Linked DNA regions of Homo sapiens. The protein of the gene in region 1 interacts with the protein of each later gene in a biochemical or structural test. Each region holds a gene or a part of one and is shown on either strand. Other genes may lie near its edges.

Evidence for each region. The genes of interacting proteins can lie anywhere in the genome.
Region 2: the proteins of UBE2D3 (region 1) and RBX1 form a complex in vitro, tested with the Homo sapiens proteins (72 studies listed by BioGRID, with this or other methods).

Annotation. Positions count from the first base shown.
Region 1 is NC_000004.12:102,793,860-102,796,680, reverse strand, and holds the end of UBE2D3 (ubiquitin-conjugating enzyme E2 D3), read left to right. Parts: 3' UTR 1-2,298; downstream 2,299-2,821. UniProt on the Homo sapiens protein: Accepts ubiquitin from the E1 complex and catalyzes its covalent attachment to other proteins. In vitro catalyzes 'Lys-11'-, as well as 'Lys-48'-linked polyubiquitination.
Region 2 is NC_000022.11:40,961,378-40,965,129, forward strand, and holds part of RBX1 (E3 ubiquitin-protein ligase RBX1), read left to right. Parts: intron 1-2,669; coding exon 2,670-2,740; intron 2,741-3,752. UniProt on the Homo sapiens protein: E3 ubiquitin ligase component of multiple cullin-RING-based E3 ubiquitin-protein ligase (CRLs) complexes which mediate the ubiquitination and subsequent proteasomal degradation of target proteins, including proteins involved in cell cycle progression, signal transduction, transcription and transcription-coupled nucleotide excision repair.

The DNA of each region.
Region 1 (2,821 bases):
TAAATGATGCAAGTTGTCAATGGATGAGTGATCAACTAATAGCTCTGCTAGTAATTGATTTATTTTTCTTCAATAAAGTTGCATAAACCAATGAGTTAGCTGCCTGGATTAATCAGTATGGGAAACAATCTTTTGTAAATGCAAAGCTGTTTTTTGTATATACTGTTGGGATTTGCTTCATTGTTTGACATCAAATGATGATGTAAAGTTCGAAAGAGTGAATATTTTGCCATGTTCAGTTAAAGTGCACAGTCTGTTACAGGTTGACACATTGCTTGACCTGATTTATGCAGAATTAATAAGCTATTTGGATAGTGTAGCTTTAATGTGCTGCACATGATACTGGCAGCCCTAGAGTTCATAGATGGACTTTTGGGACCCAGCAGTTTTGAAATGTGTTTATGGAGTTTAAGAAATTTATTTTCCAGGTGCAGCCCCTGTCTAACTGAAATTTCTCTTCACCTTGTACACTTGACAGCTGAAAAAAAACAACATGGGAGTAATAATGGGTCAAAATTTGCAAAATAAAGTACTGTTTTGGTGTGGGAGTTGTCATGAGGCTGTGTTGAAGTGACTTATCTATGTGGGATATTGAGTATCCATTGAAATGGATTTGTTCAGCCATTTACATTAATGAGCATTTAAATGCAACAGATATCATTTCAGGTGACTTAACATGAATGAATAAAAGTCAATGCTATTGGATTGTTTTTTGTTTGACAAGTGCTATCTGTGCCACTGATTTAACTTCTGTAGTAACAAGGGCATTACCATTCTTCACCTTTCCTAATTCTGATCCCATAGTTTTACATTTTTCCTGTTTATTTTGATTTTGTTCACTGCTTTATTTCTTAAAGTTCTAGCACATCTGTGACTCCTCCACTTCCACATTTTTGCACTGCTTACACTTACGTGCAATCTTATTCCTTGTCTGCACACACATGTGGAAAGCTAGAAATAAATGTTAAAACTTACTTTTTATAAACATTTTAATATGTAGTTTGGACATGATTTATTGACTTAAGGTTCTTCTCTAAACTGGAAGTGAAATGCATGCCTTCTGAAGATGTTCTGGCTTTGTTAATTCTGTAATCATTTCATTGGGGAAAAAACCAGCTACGCAGTTTTTCCAATGAGTGAATTTTTTCATTTTGTGTTTTGCTTAAAACGGCTCCTTCAGGGTAGATGTCATACTGCATAACTTTTTTGGATTCAAATTATGAATGAGAAATTAGTTAACATTCTGCTCCACAAGGTAAGAAAAACTGCTCTTTGGCTCTATTTTCAAAATTACTTCTGAGATGCATATAGTCTCAAAATAACAGCTTTAGTAGGCATATCACTTCTTGAAAGCCAAACATGAGTGTAAGACACTTTTATGAAACACGGTGGATCCCTAACTGGCTTTCAAATTGACCTTTATAGCCTTAGACAACCCTTAGGTATTTACGGAGATGACTTCTTTGATTGTCATAACAATTAGTGGATGTGTCCAGTTCTCTGTATCTTTGACTTGATGCTTTATACATCATTTCATTTGTTGCTTCTAAGGGAATAAGCCATAGAGGCTTCTCCAGGTTTAAAAGAACAGTAAAGTACCTGGAAAACCAACATTTTTGAATGTATGGACACTGGACATGAGATATGTACAATGAAATCTTAAAAGAATCTAAGAATTTGCCCTCTTTGCCCCACTCCACCCAGTAATTTGACATTACTAGTGCCATGTATAGGACCCAACTGAGTATTAGAATCAGTTTTGACTATGTCTTTGTATTTCCTAAATCTTTTAATGCATAAACCGAATTAGGGTCCAGTTGGCCTGTTAATGGTAAATTTACATTTTAAATGACTCAGTTTGTTTTTCCTGGGCGAGTTTGCAATGTGATAATCAGATTTTTTAAAACTGATTAATTTGCTTTCTTGTGTGGGTGTACTCACATTTTAAAGTATGAACCACAGTTAACTAGTGGTCTCAGGGGTAGTGAAACACTCACTTTTTTTTTTGTTTGTTTTTTTTTGTTTGTTGAAATGGCTTAGTTGAAGTATACTTAAGGTACTGATCATGCTGTGTTAGTAATTTGGGCGGGGAGGGGGGTAACTCAGCCATGTTTTGTGTTGGCATAACAAAACTGTTAATGATTGTTGATTACACTTTTAAGTGAATTTGTCTTTTATGAGGAACCCAGTGCAAGTCACTAAATATTGTCTAATAGTGACATCTGCATAAGACTTGTAATAGCTGAAGTTAATTGAGCTTAAAGGAATTGTTACCATTAAAGTCTGTGTTTAAAGACACTTTGGTCTTACTCGGTAATTCCAGCTAACATGAAATCCACACTTGAGCTTAATGTGTGTGAGCTCGATTTTTAATTTTATACAGTTTATGAATAAGGTGGTTCTCAAAATGTTTCTTGAGATAACAATCTCAGCATCATTTAGGAAATTCTTTGTAATATAAGTTGTCAGGCCCCATCCCAGTCCTGAGTCAAACTGGCATGGAGCCCAGTCACCTATATTAAAACACCCTCCAAGTGATTCTGATGAATAGTGAAGATTGAGAACCGTTTTCAGAAGTCTGTTCGTAGCATTCCCTTGTAACAGACTACAACCAGTAATCCTTTGACTCTACAGCTATTTTTTTATAGCTGTTTTTGGCTTTAGAGAATGTGTTTAAGTATTACGTTTCTGATACCTGACAATTTCCTAGTACTTTGAATTGTAATACAGTACATTGATTTCCACATTTACACTTGGAATATTAAAATACATTAACGTCCTACAGTTGGCTAATTTGAATAACCATACTGGCATGGAATTC
Region 2 (3,752 bases), on another chromosome or scaffold:
CCTGACCCAATTCTTTATTTTTATTTTATTTTATTATTTTTATTTTTATTTTTTGAGACAGAGTCTCGCTCTGTTACCCAGGCTGGAGCGCAGTGGTGCGATCTTGGCTCACTGCAAGCTCCGCCTCCCGGGTTCACACCATTCTCCTGCCTCAGCCTCCTGAGTAGCTGGGACTACAGGTGCCCGCCACCACGCCTGGCTAATTTTTAAATATTTTTAGTAGAAACCATGTTAGCCAGGATGGGCTCGATCTCCTGACCTCGTGACCCACCCGCCTCAGCCTCCCAAAACGCTGGGATTATAGGCGTGAGCCACCGGGCCTGGCCCCAATTCTTTATTTTTATCAGTTGGCAAACCAAGTTACTCTGTAGTGTGAATCTGGCTAGCAAAAGTAAGTGCTTTGCTTTCTCTGTGTGTGTGTGTGTGTGTGTCAGCCTTACTCTGTCACCCAGGCTGGAATGCAGTGGTGTGATCTCGGCTCACTGCAGCCTCTGCCTCCTGGGTTCAAGTGATTCTCCTGCCTCAGCCTCCTGAGTAGCTGGGATTACAGATATCCACCACCATGCCTGGCTAATTTTTGCCTTCTTAGTAGAGAGGGGGTTTTGCCATGTTTGCCAGGCTGGTCTCGAACCCTGACATCAAGTGATCCGTCACCCTCGTCCTTCCAAAGCATTGGGATTGCAGGCGTGAGCCACTACTCCCAGCCTTTTATGGTTTGTTTGTTTGTTTGTTTGTTTTTTGAGACAGAGTCTTGCTCTTTTGCCCAGGCTGGAGTACAGTGGTGTGCAACTTCGGCTCACTGCAACCTCTGCCCCTTGGGTTCAAGCAATTCTCCTACCTCAGCCTCCCAAGTAACTGGGATTGCAGACATGTACCACCATGCACCACTAACTTTTGTATTTTTAGTAGAGATTGGGTTTTGCCGTGTTGGTCAGGCTGGTCTCGAATTCCTGACTTCAGCCTCTCATAGTGCTGGCATTACAGGTGTGAGCCAACATGCCCGGCCCACTTTCCACATTTTCGAAGAGTGAAAAGAAAAAGGTATTATCATGGTATCTCTTCCCCTAAAACCACACATGCCCATTAACATCTAGTTTTGTTTTTTTTAATAGTTTTACTTTTTTTTTTTTTTTTTTGAGACAGAGTCTCACTGTGTCACCCAGGCTGGAGTGCAGTGGCGCAGTCTTGGCTCACTGCAACCTCTGCCTCCCGGATTCAAGCAATTCTTCTGCCTCAGCCTCCTGAATAGCTGGGACTACAGGCGCCCACCACCACACACACCTGGCTAATTTTTATTTATTTTTTTATTTTTATTTTTATTTATTTATTTTTTGAGACGGAGTCTTGCACTGTCGCCCAGGCTCCAGTGCAGTGATGCAATCTTGGCTCACTGCAAGCTCCGCCTCCTGGGTTCAAGCAATTCTCCTGCCTCAGCCTCCTGAGTAGCTGGGACTACAGGCACCCGCCACCACGCCCAGCTAATTTTTTTTTTTTTTTTTTAGTAGAGACGGTGTTTCACTATGTTGGCCAGGATGGTCTCAAAGTCCTGACCTCATGATGTGCCTGCCTCGGCCTCCCAAAGTGCTGAGATTACAGGAGTGAGCCATCGCGCCTGGCCTACTCCTGGCTAGTTTTTCATATTTTTAGTAGAGACAGGTTTCACCATGTTGGGTGGGCTAGTCTTGAACTCCTGACCTCGTGATCCGCCTGCCTCAGCCTCCCAAAGTGCTGGGATTACAGGTGTGAGCCACCACGCCCAGCCATAGTTTTACTATTTTTCACCTGTAGTAGTTTGAAGTAATTCTCCCCTATTAAATAGTTTCTCCTGAAGCTTTTTATTCTTCAGAAGGGAGACTCCATTTAGTTACTATGATCAGAGAAAGCAAGTTATGCATTAGTAATTCTTGTTCTGTGAATATTTATCCCCAGTTGTGCTTTACCCATCAGATCTTGATCTCAGTCAAGAACTCATTGCAGGCCAGGTGCGGTGGCTCATGCCTGTAATCCCAGCACTTTGGGAGGCTGAGGTGGGCGGATCACCTGAGGTCAGGAGTTTGAGACCAGCCTGGCCAACACGGAGAAACCCCATCTCTACTAAAAATACAAAATTAGCCAGGCATGGTGGTGTGCGCCTGTTAATTCCAGCTACTTGGGAGTCTGAGACACGAGAATCGCTTGAACTCGGGGGGCGGAGGTTGCAGTGAGCCAAGATTGTGCTATTGCACTTCAGCCTGGGCAACAAGAGGGAAACTCCATCTCAAAAGGAAAAAAACTCAGTCTAGGCAACATGGTGAAACTCCATCTCTACAAAAAATACAAACAATTAGCTGGTGTGGTGGCACGCACCTGTAGTCCCAGCTACTCAGGAGGCTGAGGGAGAATCACCTAAGCCCAGGAAGTCAAGGCTGCAGTGAGCCATGCTCATGCCACTGCACTGTAGCCTGGGCAACGGGAGTGAGATGTGCATTTCCCATTTGTTACTCTTTTTAAACAAGGATAGGAAATCGTCAGAAAGCATACTGTTATCTCTGTCTTCTCTGTTCTTCCTTTCCCACATTCATTAAAAAACAATTATGGCTAATTAACCACTTGAGAATTGTTTTGGCTGCTATAGATTGAAACGTTGCTGCTCCCAAGGTCCAGTGATCCTGTTGCTCTTGTTCCCACAGGCATAGAATGTCAAGCTAACCAGGCGTCCGCTACTTCAGAAGAGTGTACTGTCGCATGGGGAGTCTGTAACGTAAGGAAGCATCTTTACCTGTCAGCATGGCTTGTAAACATATTTCCACTTTTCCTGCTTTGCTAGTCTTGAAAATAACTAGGGAAAAAAATGACTAGTCCACCTTTCTCCCAAAAGGTATACAAATAGTAAAAAAGATTTTAAATCATAATACTATTCACCTGTTACAGGGTAAAAATTACAGTTACTGCAAAGAGGCACTTATTTGTCTTAATTATAAAGTGGACCCAATTTTGTTAGCAGTATTTTGGGGCTTCATCTATGGGAATTGCCTTCAAAACCTACATGCACCCTTTGGAATATTCTCGTGGTAGAACTTTGTACCTTTGAAACAGGCTTTTTTAAAGACCAGGTGTCTAATGGAACTAAGTTTGATGAGTAAATTGAGTGTTGAAGTCTCTGTGTATGTGTGTTTTAAGTGTGGCGTATGTACTGAGATAAGATTATTTTTTAACATGGCTTATGCCAGAAATGTTTTGTGTAGCTTTATTGGACTGAATGGCCTTCCAAGAGTGTGACAGCTGTGAAGGATAACAAATATCAAATATGTTAGTTCTAGCATGTGTTAAAAATTCATTCTTTAAGCTGTAAAGTCCCAGTCACATGAGCTAAAATTGTCTTGTCAGGGCCTCCTGTGTCATGGGGACAGAATACTCACAGTTCCCAGCATGACACAGGGATAAGAGATTCTAGAGTCAGACCACCATTCCCTGTCTTTGTGACTTACTTGCTAAGTGACGTTAGGCAAGGCATTTAACGTCTCCAATCCTGGGTTCCCTCATAAAATGGGGCTGATAGTGGACCACATAAAATTGTAATCCGGATTAGATGATTTATGTTAAAATGTGATTAAACAACTCCCGGCACATAGTAAGCACAAGTGCTTGTTAAAAAAAATCTAAATAGGCCGGACGCGGTGGCTCACGCCTGTAATCCCAGCACTCTGGGAGGCCGAGGCGGGTGCATCATGAGGTCAGCAGATGGAGACATCCTGGCTAACACAGTGAAACCC